Regions from separate parts of the Homo sapiens genome. Here region 2 is linked to region 1. A link means that fine-mapping ties the variant in region 1 to the expression of a gene that starts in the linked region. Tissue or cell type: whole blood. Region 1 holds a variant in brackets; the other region holds the start of a gene. All regions are shown on one strand. Distances are between the middles of the regions.

Region 1 (8,262 bases):
CTGCGTTTTGCTCCATGCCCACATCCCTTCAGTGCGTCAGTGTCCAGGCCCTTCTCATTGGAGCACCCAGAGCCAGGACACTGCCTGGATCTGCACCTCAGGGCGTACCCTGCTCGGTGTGTCAAGCTGACCCTGGTGTGCATTGCACACTTCTCAAGTGTTTGACCGTGTTGCTGAGCTAGCACCACATTCTGTCAGGAGCACGCAGGCTTTATGTTTTGCCTCTAGCACTGAGTGGTAGTGACTTTCGCTTCTACTTCCTCACTGATTTTTCTGATGACAAACGAAAATGAAATTTTGCTTATCTGGCTCAAATTATGCTCTTGCTCACTTCTGTACACGAGATTGCCCCGTTTTCAGTTTTGCAGACTTAATGTTGCGCTCCTGCTGCTGTTTCCTTGCCTTGGGTTGGGGCAGTGGACAGAAGGAGCCGGAAGCTGCCTGGCATCAACTTTCAATTGTTGGGAGTGTAGCTGGCATTCTGAGATAGGGAGGGATTGCTGGAGTCCTTGGTTCCTACGGAAGAAGGACCGTGGAGGAGGAGCTGGAACTTAAGCACTGTCTTTGACCCACACTGAAGGATCTGCCTCCAGGGCCTGAGACCAGGCTGCTCTGCATTCAGGGAGGCATTTACATGACAAAACGTGGGTGTGTCCCTGCACACTGAATGTAAATATGGGTGGAGGCACATCTTTGCCTTGAGGCTTTAGAAACAAGATTTAAAAAAAAATCTGTAGCAAAATGTCCTTGTTAAGGAGTGTATTTCCTACTGGGCAGCCATGGTGAAGGGTTCTGTTTGAGCCCAGGTGTCCTCCTAGGCAGTGAGGGCTGTCCCTGGTGCCCCCTCTGATGAGATGCTTGTGTCAAAGATGCTCAGTCTGCCTGTCGGGTTCTCAGTGTTCTGGGCTCTCCCACAGCTCCATGCAGGCAGGCCTGGGAACTGAGTGCTGTGCAGAGCCCTCAGAGCCCCGTGTGGTGCAGGCTTTGCTCTCTGCATTGCCTCCAGGAAAGGAGCCCAGCTTCTGGCTTTGAACTGGGTTCCCTGAGGGATAGAGTTGAGTGGCAGAGGTGAAGTTACAGGTTTTGGCCTCTGACCCTCTTTCTCCAGCACTGAGCAGTAAGGACTTTCTGTTCTACTTCCTCAACTGATTTTTCTGTTGACAAATGAAAATGCAGTTTCACTTATCTGGCTCAGATTATGCCCTTGATCATTTCTTTCTTTTTTTTTTTTTTTTTTTTTTTTTGAGATGGAGTCTTGCTCTATCACCCAGGCTGGAGTGCAGTGGCGCGATCTCGGCTCACTGCAAGCTCTGCCTCCCGGGTTCAAGCTATTCTCCTGCCTCAGCCTCCTGAGGAGCTGGAACTGTAGGAGCCCACCACCACACCTGGCTAATTTTTGTATTTTTAGTAGAGACAGGGTTTCACAGGTTGGCCAGGATGGTCTCGATCTCCTGACCTCATGATCTGCCCACCTCCGCCTCCCAAAGTGCTGAGATTACAGGCGTGAGCCACTGTGCCCAGCCTTTTTTTTTTTTTTTTTTTTTTGGAGACACGGTTTTTTTCTTGTCACCTAGGCTGGAGTGCAATGGCATGATCTCGGCTCACTGAGTTCAAGCAATTCTCCTGCCTCAGCCTCCTGAGTAGTAGTGACTATTAGCGCCTGCCACCACGCCCAGCTAATTTTGTATTTTTAGTAGAGATGGGGTTTCACCAGGTTGGCCAGGCTGGTCTGGAACTCCTGACCTCAGGTGATCTACCCGCCTTGGCCTCCCAAAGTGCTGGGATTACAGGCATTAGTCACTGCGCCTGGCCCATAAAAACACCTGTTTCTGTTAAGTCAAATATTTGAGGAATGGCTTAACAAAAATGGCTGTTTCTGTTAAGTCAGTTGTTTGACGTTTGGCTTAGAACATCCAGCCCTAGTGTAGCTTCCTCATGGATGTGTTGTTGTAAGCAATGTATTGTGAAGTAGCCCTGGCTTTAGCTTGTGTTATTAGTGCAGTACCTGTATCTCGTTGGCATATGTTGCAACTAGCTGCTAAATGTATTTTAATAGGGTTCCTAAGTGTATTTGAATAAACAAAGAGCCAATCATTTTCTTGTTATATTTTCTCCCTAGAAAATTCAAAACGACTGTAGAGACCCTCCGGATTACTGGACAATACATGGACTATGGCAAGTGTCTCACACAATTAAATCTTAGGCAGAAGAGGCTTGCTGACTGGGAACCCTAGCTTGAATGTGGTCTTAATATTTATTCTTGTTTTTTATTTTTAGGAGTTTATCCAATAGACTAGATTCTTATTTAAAAATATCTTTAGTCTTTCTAGCAGAACCCTGATTCTCTTGTTCTTTAATTCTGTCTTCATAGAACAATAACACTTTTTTTTTTTTTTTCTGAGACAGAGTCTTACTCTGTTGCCTAGGCTGAAGTGCAGTGGCACGATCTTGGCTCACTGCAACCTCCACCTCCCAGGTTCAAGTGATTCTCCTGCTCCAGCCTCCCAAGTAGCTGGAATTGCAGGCACGCCCCACCACACCCGGCTATTTTTTGTATTTTTAGTAGAGACAGGATTTCACCATGTTTGTCAGGCTGGTCTCGACCTCCTGACCTCAGGTGATCCATCCACCTTGGCCTCCCAAAGTGCTGGGATTACAGGTGTGAGCCACTGTGCCCAGCCAATAACACTTTTTAAAATAGTGTTTACAGATTCTCGGTACATGTCAGGGTCACTACATTTTAATTTTCTCATTTTGTTCTTCTCTTGGGGTTTATTATAAATAACTACATGAAAATACATAAATGCACGTCTCGTACACATTTCAGAGACACTCAAATTTATTATTCTGGTTTTGTCTGCGTTTTGTTCAGTTAATTCTTTTCTATGTAACATGGACATACTTGTGACGCTGAACTGTGCACATTAATCGCCCCATCTGAAGGACCCGTTTTGTCCCACTGCCTCGATGCCGGGATTGAAAAGGGCCCTTTTAGCTTAATTGGTGCCTCCTGGCTCCTTAGGAAGAGGGATTGGTGGAAAACAAGTTAAACTGGGATGTAGGTACTTGGCTTCGGGTTTCACTTTCTTCTCTGTCTGGTCAGATAACCTTGACCTCCTGTCTCTGGGGCTCCTGGCTTTGCTAGACTTTGCGTGGTGTCCTCTCCCCTGCTGTGACCAAGTGCTCTGAATGTACCTCTGCCCATCATGGCCGTTTCATTTCTGAGGCTGGAATGAAGCTTTGCAATGCTGTCCAGTCCAGCGGATAGAATCAGGCAGGTTTCACATGCTGGTCCAGCTGTTGACCCTGAAGACACTCTCCTCCCTGGCCTCTTTGGGGCTCTGAGGGGTCGGGGTCTTAGGAAGTTAGTGACCTTGTGGAGTAAGCAGCACTCAAGAGTCAGAGTTGATAAGTCCAGAATTAGATGTGTGAGGATGGAGTTAAAGTTCTAGACAGTGTAAGTGCGTTTGCTACTGAAAATGAAATGAAAATCCTACTAGCTGATCTTCTGCCATACGCCAGGCACTTTCTGACATGTTTTATCTGTCATCTCCTGGAGTCCTCCTCACCATTGAAAGGAACAGACTCTCGCTGTTCTCATGCTGGATCTGTGGTGCGGAGATTGGCCGGGGGTCAGCTTACTTAGGTCTCGGTGCTAGGGAGCAGCAGAGGTTGCCGTCAACCCAGCCGGGGCTGACCCCAGAGTCCCCGCTCCTCGGTGCTACTAGGCTATCCATTGCACTTCCTTTACTAAGCAGTGGCCTGTCTGCATTACTCCTGGACGGTTTAACACAATTTCTTTTCCCTTCTAAAGAAATTTGAACTCTGACTCCTCTTACCTGCATCTTCTTTCTTAAGCATCCTGCCTGGGATAAGGAATTCCCAATTAGAATTTCTCTTTTTATTCTTTGCAGACTTCAATGAAAGTGTTTTCTAAGGTCATGTAGAAGCCACCCCAACCAAGCCTAATATTTCTTATTTTCTCTTTTAAATTTGAATTTCCAGGCCCGATAAAAGTGAAGGATGTAATAGATCGTGGCCCTTCAATTTAGAAGAGATTAAGGTATTGACTTTTAATTATATTTCTACTGCAGAGTGTTGACCTAGATTAACTCTTTTCTTCACAAGCGTACCTTCAAAGTCATCTTTAAAATTAAGGGGTCATGAATGTATTCACCAGGATTGAGCCCTTGCTGCTGTTTTAGTAA[G/A]TATTGTTATCTCGACCCCACAAATTACACCAATTGACCTTTTCCCTCTCCTCCCCTCCCCTGCCCTGTGCCCAAGCCACTGCATGAGGGGCCTGAGCGAGGGGCTCCGACCGGAGCAAGCCCTGACACTCCCCCATGCCAGACCTGTGCAGATCCTGACGCTCGCCCGCCAGCCCCGCCTCGTCCCAGGCCCCAGGACTTCTGGGTCAGATGACCGACGTGGGAATCTGGTCGGTGTGCCATATCGCCAGGCATCTCCAGACAGCTGAGGCTCAGAGAGCACAGGCCTGGGGCCGTCCTATCTGGTGGATGGGTTTCTGAGCAGGTGGACATGCTGGGCCTTTCCAGTACAAGAGCTTGATTAAAGAAAACTCACAGGGCGGGAATTTATTAGAGATACTAGCAGAGGCGTTCCTTTGAGATACCCGTACCTTATATGTCATACGGAGTCTTCACTCACACACACGCCCTCATCTTTCCTTAGGGGTGCCAACAGTTCCTGTGTGTAACCAGTATATACCAGGGTAACTGGACCTGGACCCCAGGGAGGGGGTGGTAACTGAGGCCTTCTTTAAAACGTGTGGTAGCATTGAAGGCTTGCGGGAGTTGTGGGTCTTTCCTAGGAATGGTACATTCCCCAAGGTCATTAGTTGCAAATCCATCACAAGTTCTTTTTTTCTTTTCTTTTCTTTTTTTTTTTTTTTTTGAGACAGAGTTTTGCTCTTGTTGCCCAGGCTGGAGTGCAGTGGCGCAATCTTGGCTCACTGCAACCTCCACCTCCCGGGTTCAAGCAATTCTCCTGCCTCAGCCTCCTGAGTAGCTGGGATTACAGGCATGCGCCACCATGCCCGGCTTATTTTGTATTTTTAGTAGACATGGGGTTTCCCCATGTTGGTCAGACTGGTCTCGAACTCCTGACCTCAGGTGATCCACCTGCCTCGGCCTCCCAAAGTGCTGGGATTACAGGTGGGAGCCACCGCGCCCAGCCCACAAGTTCTAATCCATATGGAATTGTTTTCTTTTTCCTCCCCGTGAAGACCTTCAGTGGGATGAGCCAAGAGGCTGGGGACTGCCGTGAGACTTAGAAGGGACACCCCAGAGCCTGGTGCTGTCTCTAGCTCCTCACACAGACTCTCCTCCTCTCCTCCGGGACTCACTGCAGGGAATGGTTTCTGGGGAGGCGTGATGAAGAGGCCACTTCAGGATACATTGAGTTTGAAGTGCCCTTGAGACCTCCAGGGGGTGACATAGAGGATCTTCAGGGTCAGAGGAAAGGTGGCTTTAGGCATAGTTAGCATGAGGATGGTGAATCAAAATGACAGGTGTGGGGATGGACATGGGTCTGTGGACATGGATGGGTGAGGAGTCAGGGCCGACAGGTGTGGACGTGGGTGGATGAGGGGGCAGGGCTGACAGGTGTGGACGTGGATGGGTGAGGGCAGGGCTGACAGGTGTGGACGTGGGTGGGTGAGGGCAGGGCTGACAGATGTGGACGTGGGTGGGTGAGGGCAGGGCTGACAGGTGTGGACGTGGGTGGGTGAGGGCAGGGCTGACAGGTGTGGACGTGGGTGGGTGAGGGCAGGGCTGACAGGTGTGGACGTGGGTGGGTGAGGGGGCAGGGCTGACGGATGTGGGTGGGCTAAGGGGACAGCGCTGACAGGTGTGGGCCTGGTGGGCAGAGGGGACAGTGCTGGTGGAGCCCCGTGTTAACAGCCAGGTGGAAAGGGGCATGTGTGCCTGCAGCTGGGAAAGGCGGAAACCCAGGAGTGGAGAGATTTGAGAAGAGGCACCGTAGGACTGCATATCCCCGGGGGGTCCAGGACAGGAAAGCTGAAATGCTTTTTGAGTGGGGGCGTGGGTGGGTCGTGGGTCTGTGGTGGTGTGAGCCGCTGCTCCTCAGAGTAGTCCTGGCTTCCTTGTTGTGTAGCAGTAGGAACACCTTTGCATTGTCCCAAACGGAAGTAGCCCAATTTGCACACTCAATCATATCGTGCCCTAGGACATCTCGGAGAGCTGATGGGGCTGAAGCCAGCATGGTGGGGCAGGAGAGGTGGGGTGGGGGGCTGGAGGGGAAGAGGAGGGGGACAGAGCTGCGCCCACACAGGCAGGGGCTGTGGGGTAGGGGCTGAGTTACAAATGGGCTGAGAAAAGGACCCTCATATAGGGTGCTGGAAAACAGGAGAAAGGGAAGGAAAGTGAAGTTATCCGAAGTTTGTTAAGCACCTTTTTACTGACCTTTTTGGGGTTTTTTTGGTGTAGAGGGTGTGTAGAAATAGAAAAGTAAACTCCAGTTCTGTTGGATTTAGCGCGACTGGTGCCCAGGCTGCCCAGCTCACACAAGCTCTTCTCTGGGAAAAGGAGAGCTTGTCCTTTGTTTGTTTGTTTGTTTTAACTGATGGTTTCGTTTTGTTTTTTTTTAAGATGGAGTCTCACTCTGTCGCCAGGCTGGAGTGCAGTGGCGCAATCTCGGCTCACTGCAACCTCCGACTCCCTGGTTCAAGCGATTCTCCTGCCTCAGCCTCCTGAGTAGCTGGGATTACAGGCATGTGGCACCGTGCCCAGCTAATTTTTGTATTTTTAGTAGAGACAGGGTTTCACCAGGTTGGCCAGGATGGTCTCGATCTCCTGACCTCGTGATCCGCCCGCATCGGCCTCCGAAAGTGCTGGGATTACAGGCGTGAGCCACCGTGCCCGGCCAATGTTTTTAGAACAGTTATAGGTTTACAGAAAAATTGGATGGAGATTACAGACAGTTCACTCCCTTCCCCCTCAACTCTCCCAATCATTAACATCTTCTATAGTGTGTTACATTTGTTACAATTAATGAACTGATACTGATACTTTATTATTAAATAAAGTTTAGCATTAACATTAGGGTTTACTCCTGTGTTGTGCGGCTTTGGACAAATGCAGGAGAGCAAGTCCCACCCAGTGTGCTCTGGAGCAGCCGCTGGCCCTAAACCCCCTGAGCCATACCTCCCCTTCTTCCTCCCCTTGAACCCCCAAGCAACCGCGAATCTCATTCCTGTCTCTTAAGACTACCTTTTCCAAATTGTCACGTCGTTGGAATCATACAGTATGTAGCCTCTGCAGACTGGCTTCTTGCACTTAGCAATGTATGTTTGCAGTTCCTCCAGTGTCTTTTCATGACTCGACGGCTCATTGGTTTTTGTTGCTGAAAATATTCCATTGTTTGGATGTACACTTTATCCCTTCACCTATAACAGCTTGTATTTTCGTGTGCAGTTTTATGATTACTCAAATTGCACTTGTAGATATATCTTAACAAACACTTCATACAAAATAAGCATAGGATTATTTTATTCACCAAAGTATTGTTAATTAGCAGAGCTCAATTCTTTGGTGTCAGTTTATCAAATTTACCTTCTAGGTTTTGAGTTTATTATTAAGAACCTGCGTAGACTTATTTTATTTTTTAATGCATAGGATCTTTTGCCAGAAATGAGGGCATACTGGCCTGACGTAATTCACTCGTTTCCCAATCGCAGCCGCTTCTGGTAAGTCCCAGCCTCTGATTGCTGTCTTGATTACTGTCTGAGCGGGTGTGGGGAGCGTGATGAATCGCTAGAAGTGGAAACTGTGTGGGAAGCAAGATAACAGAATCTGTCTTCTGGGGCTGAGCAGTTTGAACAACCTTTTATGAGATATGATTCTGTTACGGCATTTTTGGTGCCTTTCTCCAATGTATAAAAAATTGAAAGCAAGTGGAATTTACCATATAAGCCTGTTTTCTAACCTGTATGGTATTTATTACTTTGCTTTAAAACTTTTCTCGGCCAGTCACAATGGCTCGTGCCTGTAATCCTAGCACTTTGGGAGGCTGAGGCGGGTGGATTGCTTGAGCTGAGGAGTTTGAGACCAGCCTGGTAACATGACAAAATGCCACCTCTACCAAAAATTTAAAAGGTCAGCTAGATGTGGTATTGTGCGGCTGTGGTCCCGGGAGATCAAGGTTGCAATGAGCTGTGATCAGCTGGGGTGATAACTAGCCTAGGTGACAGGGTGAGACCCTGTCTCAAAAACAAAATAAAGA
Region 2 (8,000 bases), 320 kb after region 1:
CTTCTCGCTGTTTGGGAGTCATGACTCCAGCCGTGCTCCGCTGACACCATGGAAGGCACCAGAGTGCCCCAGGCAGAGGGACGAAAAAAAATCTGTGTTACCAGGAAAGTTATTTGATCAGCCTCTCTGTAGATTCTGGCCCTATGGTTTATAAATGGGTTTCAAAAGAAAGTGGTATGAAGGAACATAGTATTTAAAAACCAATAAAATCCAAAGCTGTCCTCACAGCGGGCTGGCGGGGGAGGTGTTGCAGGTGAAGCCCACCTTCTGTGAGCCCTGTGCCTTCCTACCCAGGTTGGATGGGGGATGAGGGCTCCAGCGGGGAGGGAGGAAGCCAACCATGATGGTTTCCACAGCTTGAAACCCAATGTGGTTTTTCTTCCTAAATGTAAGCCAGTCAATAAGGGTCAAGTACAACTGGCCTGTGGGTTTCCACCTGCCTCTCCTGACTACTCAGAAACCAGGCCCTCTGGTTTCAAATGTAAATTCCATTTCCTGGTACTTCACCATTAGAGCTTTATTTCTGTCATTTTGAAGACTTTTACGCATTAAGACTTTCTTTTTAAATTTTCGATATGCTCAGAGATTTTAAACTGTTAAACTGAGGGCACAGGTGTCATTCTGACATGGCTTGGTTGGCACCCAGATGTGAATGAGACCCAAGTGTCCTGTGGGTGAGGGCCAGGGGCCAGCCAGAGACCAGAGGCAAACTTGATCCCTTCTGACTTTTGCCGAGGGCCCAAGAAGCCCTTCCCTGACAGCTCCAGGCCCCTTGCTGACACCTGCTCCGAACGTGCCCCCACCTGAACTGTCCACTACAGTTTACCTTCTAGGGTCTCAGGACTTTAAGACCATCTTCCTGAGCAAGGACTAATTCCTACATTCAAGAAACTTCAAAGTCATAAACATTTCAAGTACACGGGGATCCACAGCCCAGGAAAAGGATTCCTTTCTGTACACTCAGGGACTACACTAAGGGAAGCTTGACTAAACCCATTTGTATCACAGCCACAGGAAGTAGTTCACAGGGGCACACACTGAAGCCCACCTCCCTCCCTCGTACTGGCTGGACACTGTCTCTGGAGCATCCAGCAGGATGCCTGTGATGGGCAGAGCCTTCGAATGCTGATACTCCGGAAAAGCACGACTTCCTGCTTTCGCAGATGGCCAGCACCAGGTGACCCTGGTGATCCTGGTGAAGTTTTGCATCAGGTGAACCTAGTGAATTCACCTCCCATGGCAAAACTTTAGTCCTAATGAAGACCGAATGTTTCAATTTATTTTAAAGATATATAGTTTCACTTGAAGTGCAATTTAGCGTTTTATTGAAAATATGTGGGAGTTTTAGAAGCTTGAAACTTTCAGCAGCCTGTAGGACTGTTTGGAGACGAACAGACATTTGTGGTACTTGACTAATTAGAAGCTCTTGGATGTCACTCAAGCCACTCCTGTGGGGTGCCCCGAGAATGTGGCATCTTCCCATATGCAGAGAGCACACCAGCCTTACCCACAAGGTGCCTGTGTAGCAGGGAGAGATGGGAAACCTTGTCACAGCTGCCTGACAGTGCCCTGTTATTCCTCAGCCTGGGACTCCCGCCTCCTCTTGTCTGTCCAGGAAACTTATTCCCTCATCTTCTTACCCTCAGGGGTTCAGAGCAAAGGCCATCTCCTCCTTGACTTCGCCAATTAGAATTGGCTTCTCATTCATCTCTTACGCATTTCTTTCACTTTACATAAAAACGGCATGAGCTTTGTCTGTTCACTCACCTTCTCTTCCATAAGACTGTGAACTTCTTGGGATGTTGTAATCATTTTGTGTCACAAATGACCACCACAGTGCCAGATGTTAGTGCTCGATAATCACTTGTGGAATTGCATTGACCACACATCAGCTAATCTGGTACTCATAGAAGCAGCAGTCACCACGGAATTCAGTCTCAAACTTACTGTGCTTGAGTCAGAGGAAATGTGAGATACTCAGAGGTCTACCAAGCTCTTTATCTTCTCTTCAGTCCTCTCCCATTCCATCATCTGGGCAAGAGCCTTTATCAAGTTCACTTTCTTTTCTGGTATTTGGTAAGGATAATTTGGATTTCGGTTACAGTGGGTCTTGATATTATACCTACCCTAGATTTAGTGGTTTTGGAGGATTTCATTACATAATCACATGAAGTAGTGTTCCATGATCACTAGAGATTTTGGTATACGTGTATTTTACCAGGAGAAAAACAAAGGCAAACAGATTTATTGTTCTAGCAATGAATTCCAGTGAAATCTGAATGATTTTCCCTCCCAAGTTCAACAGAACAGTTTTGTTGCCTTCAAATTTGGGGAACTAATGAATGTCCCATGAAATATTTCCTTTCCAATTTTGTCAGATCAGGTCAAAATACTATTGTTGGTACAACACAAGCCTTGACTTAGGCCTGCCTGCCTTGGGGCTTTTGTCCTGAACAGGATGCCCATGAGTTGGTATAGGTGGCATTCAGCACTCCTGTCTCCGGCCAGTATTACTGGCTCCCCTTCCGAGGGAAGCATGGTCGGGTTGGTCCTCCCTCATTCCCGGAGTCTGTGTCCAGTTGGAGGTCCATCTACCTCTTCCCGTGCTGGGTACAGAGTGTCTTTGTGTTTGCCTAGAGCCAGGATGCCTGAGGGTCCCAGCAGGGATACAGGGCACTAAGAGGCTGGTTCTGAGAGCACAGATTACTACCCTCCCAGCAGAACCTTAAAGGAAGCAGGCAAAGCAGTTTTCATGGGCACTTAACTGGCACACCATCTTGAAAAGGAGCAAAAAGTGGTGTTTGGTGTCCTTGTGGGGTCCTGCACTTCTGTTTTTAAAGAATAGTCATTATAGATCCTTTAATACATAATATGAAAATCAATTGCACTATTTAAATTCACAAAGCACTCCCACATCCGTGATCTTGCATAAGCCTCTTGGTATCCAGTAAGGGAGGTGAGACAGGTTTCACTCGTATTTTCCTCTTAGAGATGAGTCGTGGGAACAACGTGCAACGGCACCCAAGTTCACCAAGCAAGGAAGGGGCAGCGCCAGAGTCGTGGTGCTAAACTCCCGGCTTCCACTCCGGAGCAGCACCGCTCAACGCGGGTCTCCAGGAAACCCAGAGAGCCTATCTGACCTCACCTCAGCCCGGATGCAGCATGACTTTAAAGCTCTTATTTAAGGACATTCTGACCTCTCTACCCACCTTAGCCAAAATAGACTACACAAGTATTAACGCAACATCTGACTAGTCCAGGGAGCAAAACAACGCGAGGATTTTGCAGTTCGCACTGCAAAAGAGCAAGCAAGACTTGTCAACTCACCACCGCACTCGTTTCTGCTCTTTGCAGGTGGTGATGGTGCTATGTCAATGGGCTCGGTTTCTCCCTGTTTTTAAATACAAACTCAACACGTGCACAAGAGGAAAACAGAGCAGGCTGCACGGGGTCGTGAGCCCGCATTCTCGGCCCTGCTGCAGCCCTTGGTGAGCATTTCTAGGAAAAAAAAGAAAAAAGTGTTTCCCTTTAAGGCGGATCCCGAGCGGCGCTGCCGCCAGCAGCGGGTCTGAGGGCCTTGCCCTAGACCCAGGTCACCCCGCCCGGGTATTCCCAGCGCGGGCCCTGATAAGCCATCTGTGTAGACGTTTCCTAGAGCGGGACCGGCTGCGGAGGGCGGATGCGTCTTTGTTCTGCAGCCGCGGGAGGGAGGCGCCCCGAGGGCTGCCTGAGCCCCCGCCCTCGGGCGCCTTTGTCCGCTCCGGCGGAGGGAAGGCGCCGGTTCCGCGGAGGGCGGCTCCTGGCCGAGCTGCAGGGCCCGCTGGCAGGCGGCGGTCCCTCGCTCGCTGTGCCGCTGAGGTTTTGGCTGCGTTTGCTGATCAACAATTAAAGTTTGGTTCGGCAGAGAAAAACATGATGACAAAGTGTGCATAGGGATGTTTTAAGGAAGGAAAACATAATGACGGCCCCAAGCTGGAAGAAAGAGCAGCCGGGCCGAAGTTGCGTGACAGGAACGCCCGCGACTGCGCGGCTCCGGAGCAGCTGCACAACTCGCCCGGGCCGGGAGCTGTCCCGGGCCGAGGCTCATTAGGTATGCGGCGGCTGCGGGCACTGATTGGCGGGCAGTGCTGTGGGCGGGGCCGTGGGCGGAACCGCGTGGGGGCGGGGCTGCACGGAGCTGGTTCTTGTAGGAAGGAGTAGAAAGAGGAGGAGGGATGGGCACCTGGAACCACAGGGCGGCGCTGATGATTGGAGGTATCGGCAGAGGCGGGGCTCTCCCGGGCGGGGCGGTGGGCTCTCATTGGCAGTGCTGGTGGTGGGTGGGAACGGGAGGGGTGGTGAGCGCTGATTGGCCGTAGTGGCGGGGCGGGGCGGAGGAGGAGGAGGTGTGCGTGCCGGGGCGCGGAGCGGCGGGCGCTGATTGGTGGTAGTGGTGGTGGGCGTGGTGTAGGCGTGGCGCGTGGCCGGCGCTGGTACTCGCAGGGGAGGCGGAGAAGGAGGCGGAGGGAGCGATTGTGGCCCCGGCCGCGGTGGCCGGCGCGGCCTGCCCTTTGTGACCGCAGCTCGCGCCCCACGCCCCGCGCCCATGGCCGCCGTGCCGGGCTCCCTGGCCACGCGTGCCCGCCCGCGGACCTGAGCCCCGCGCCTGGGATGCCGGGGATGCGCGTCCCCCGGCCCTGCGGCTGCTCCGGGCTGGGCGCGGGGCGATGGACCTGAGCATGAAGAAGTTCGCCGTGCGCAGGTTCTTCTCTGTGTACCTGCGCAGGAAGTCGCGCTCCAAGAGCTCCAGCCTGAGCCGGCTCGAGGTAATGCGGCCGCCCTCGGGGCGCGCAGGTGCCGGGCACTGAGCGGGCCGTGGTCGCCCGAGCCCGCCTCGCCACCCCTGGGTGGACCCCGAGACCCGTCAGGGAGTTCAAGTTACTGGAAAGCTGGTCCGGTTCCGAAAATCGAACCAAACGGCTCCAAACGTTATCGCTGGGACTCCGTAGTAATTGGGCGGTCCGTGGGTCCTCGCGGGGGCAACTCCACCCCCACTGCATTTCCAGCTGGTTTCTCCGCCGCTGGCTGCACGGGGTGTGGGATGGTCCCCTGTGGGCCACAGGGAGCCCCGGGTGAGGAGGGGCTTTCTCTGCAGCTAGACCGCCGAGTGGCGCGGAGCGCTCCGCGGGGGTCCCTCAAAGTCCCGAGTGGAGAAGCCCCCCAGCTCCGCCCTCCGAGGCGCTGATCAGGTGCTGTCTGCCGTGCCCGGCCGGCAGGTTCCACCTTATCTTGTAGCTCATTCGTGCACTTGAAGTCAGTGTAGAATTCACAGAACGGGGAAGAACAGGCAGCAGCACAATCTGCTTAGGCGTCTAAAACGGCGTTCAGGAGTAAAGAGCCTGATGCAATATCCTCGCAGCGCCGAGGCTGATACAGATTCGTCCTGAAAACCCAGAGTACTCCCAAAGCCCTGTCCTTTCTACCTGTCCCGCATCTTGGCATCTTAGAGTTTCCTTGTGGACGGTTCTCTCGTGGTGTGTTTTATTTCAACCATCAAATCTTATTCTCTTATTCCCAGTGTCCAAATCACATTGTTGAATCTATAGATGACAAAACAGTGAAACGTGTTTAAGTGAAAAAGACATGGTGATGGGGAGACTGAGGCTGGGACCCAAAGATTTCGCCTGACACTGTCCCGCCTTTGCCTCAAGGCTGGCACCTGTGGGGTTTTGGTTGGTTTGTTTCAGCTGGAACAATCTCAAATGTTTCATCTTGGTTTTCTTTGTCCCAGCTGCCATGATATTAGACACAGACATGGGTTCTGTAACCATTGAGAGACCTGAGGAATAGACAAAAAAGTAGAAGAGAATTACTTGTTTAAAAAGTTTCTCTTATGGCATCCCTAAATCAGAATTGGAAGTACTAGATAGGATCAGTATGGCCGGTTCCCGAGGGTAAAACACATCTTTCAAACAAAACTGTTAATCCAGTACTGGAGGAGGGCTTGCTTTTAAGTCTAATATTGAAAGAAATGAAGCACACCAGTGAGGCAAATCATTTTCCTGGGACACAGGCACTTAAAAAATCTGAAGTTGACAAGATCAGAAACTCAGAACAGTATTTATCTTTATCCGGATACATGTCTTTGTTTCCTGTTTCATCTCAATGCCAAGTTTATTAGACAACTCCTTGTCTCCTTCCATTTACTGTCTTTGCCAAGAAGAGGTACACGTGTGAGCACACTCCAGGCATTGTTTATGAAGAGCAGCACTAGACACTGGCTGACCAGTGGGAGTTCAGGAATCTGCCTGATTCTGGATACACACGCCTCTGGTGTCACAGGGTTCTGCAAGGAGGGCTGGGCTGCAGGCGTGCCTCCGGAAAGAATACAGTGGGAAACAAGCGGGGGGGGGGGTGGGGGGGTGGTGGGAATAGGAAACGAGGTTTCTTCCATGTAGAAATAAAATTTCTAGAAGTCATACATAAACCATCAGCGATGTAGGAGGTCAAATGGGCTGAAAATACATGTAGTCTAAGAGCAAGTAGTCAATTAGTGCTTCCTGTGTGCCAGATCCCGTACTAGGTGCTGGAGGTCTCACTAAGATGGTCAATAATGGCCGGGCGCAGTGGCTCATGCCTGTAATGCCAGCCCTTTGGGAGCCTAAGGCGGGCGGATTATGAGGTCAGGAGATCGAGACCATTCTGGCCAACATGGAGAAACCCCATCTCTACTAAATATACAAAAATTAGCTGGGCATGGTGGCGCGTGCCTGTAATCCCAGCTGCTCAGGAGGCTGAGGCAGGAGAATCGCTTGAACCAGGGAGTCAGAGGTTGCAGTGAGCCGAGATTGCGCCACTGCACTCCAGCCTGGCGAGAGAGCGAGACTTGTCTCAAAAAAAAAAAGGTCAATGCTAATACAATGCTCTCTTTTTTACAAATGCATTCCCCAGCTTTCTATTATTTGATACTTGTGAAAATCGGGGTAGCATATGTAACTTTCCTCATTCTATTGCTAAGGGGAAGAAACCCTGAGAGTTTGAGAGTCTTGTTAAAAGCTTTCCAAGGAATTCATTCTGCAAGTGTTTATGGAGGACCGGGTCTTGGGCTGGTCTTTTTCTGGATACTGTGTCCAAAAAGACACGAGACATAGAAGTCCTGGCCTCAGGGCACTTCCACCCAGTGATGAGTCTCACAAGCAGCTGACTTTGTGCCCCAGTCCAGTAAGTTCCTCTTCTGCGCCCTACCCATACTTGAGAAGGCTGCCTGTTCGTTTGTGTGTTCACAGCTGGTTATAGGCCAAGAAGCACTCATCAAAAAATGTAAAACTGAGCAGGGGAGGTCTGTCAATGGATTGAGGTTGAGAAATAGGACACAAAGTACTGAACACAGATGTGTATTTCCTCTGTGTGGATGAATGAGAAAGATAACTTGTTTTATAATAGGAAACATTTTAAAATTGTTTCTGTGAAATTTATATTTTGAAATATACAAAGACTTTGAAAATTTTTGTTATTTGAAATTCAAAGTCTAGTGACATAAACAGGAAATTAATGTAGTTACTTTAAGTTGAAAACAATATCTTCATTTAAAAGGCTTTCAGAGAGAGACTCAGTCCTAATGTTTTCATACTTGATTTTATTTATTTTCATTTTTTATTTTTTTAAATAATGAGAAATTTCTAAAGTTCCTTCTTTTTTTTCCTCTCTTTTACATTTATGCTTGGCAAAACTTCTCTGAACATACTTGATTTTAAAATAAATTTTACGTCCATAACCCAACATTTGCTAAACCCTAAGTGACAGAGAAGTCAGGTTACTTAATCATATTTGGAAACAGTTTATTAATTACAGATTAAAATGAAATTCACTGAATATTTTTGTCCTCTATCAGCATAGAACCAAGTGAGATGGCCAAGTTGTTGACTCTGGCAACTATAATTTTGGGGGTTTCTAGAGGAAAACTGGGTATCTTCCATAGACTTCCATGGGTGTGCCCCAGAAAGGTGTCAGGTCTCAGTGAC

What was found. PIP is the estimated chance that this variant, and not a neighbour inherited with it, causes the effect.
Region 2: RPS6KA2 starts here. The variant in region 1 is fine-mapped to the expression of RPS6KA2 in whole blood (TOPMed, PIP above 0.99).

Annotation. Positions count from the first base shown.
Region 1 is chr6:166,942,483-166,950,744 of GRCh38, reverse strand. RNASET2 (ribonuclease T2) reads left to right here. Exons shown (of 9, transcript NM_003730.6): 3 at 2,120-2,175; 4 at 4,006-4,063; 5 at 7,656-7,726. It also overlaps the pseudogene LOC105378119. Among named protein-coding and RNA genes, the nearest start is that of RNASET2, 9.9 kb to the left of the region's middle. RefSeq lists enhancers at 1-223, 344-393, 519-1,204 and silencers at 994-1,063, 770-1,064. The variant G/A (reference allele first, on the strand shown) is at 4,209.
Region 2 is chr6:166,623,726-166,631,725 of GRCh38, reverse strand. RPS6KA2 (ribosomal protein S6 kinase A2) reads left to right here and starts at 4,475. Exons shown (of 21, transcript NM_021135.6): 1 at 4,475-4,805. The coding sequence starts at 4,707. RefSeq lists silencers at 3,716-3,775, 4,026-4,195, 4,256-4,605.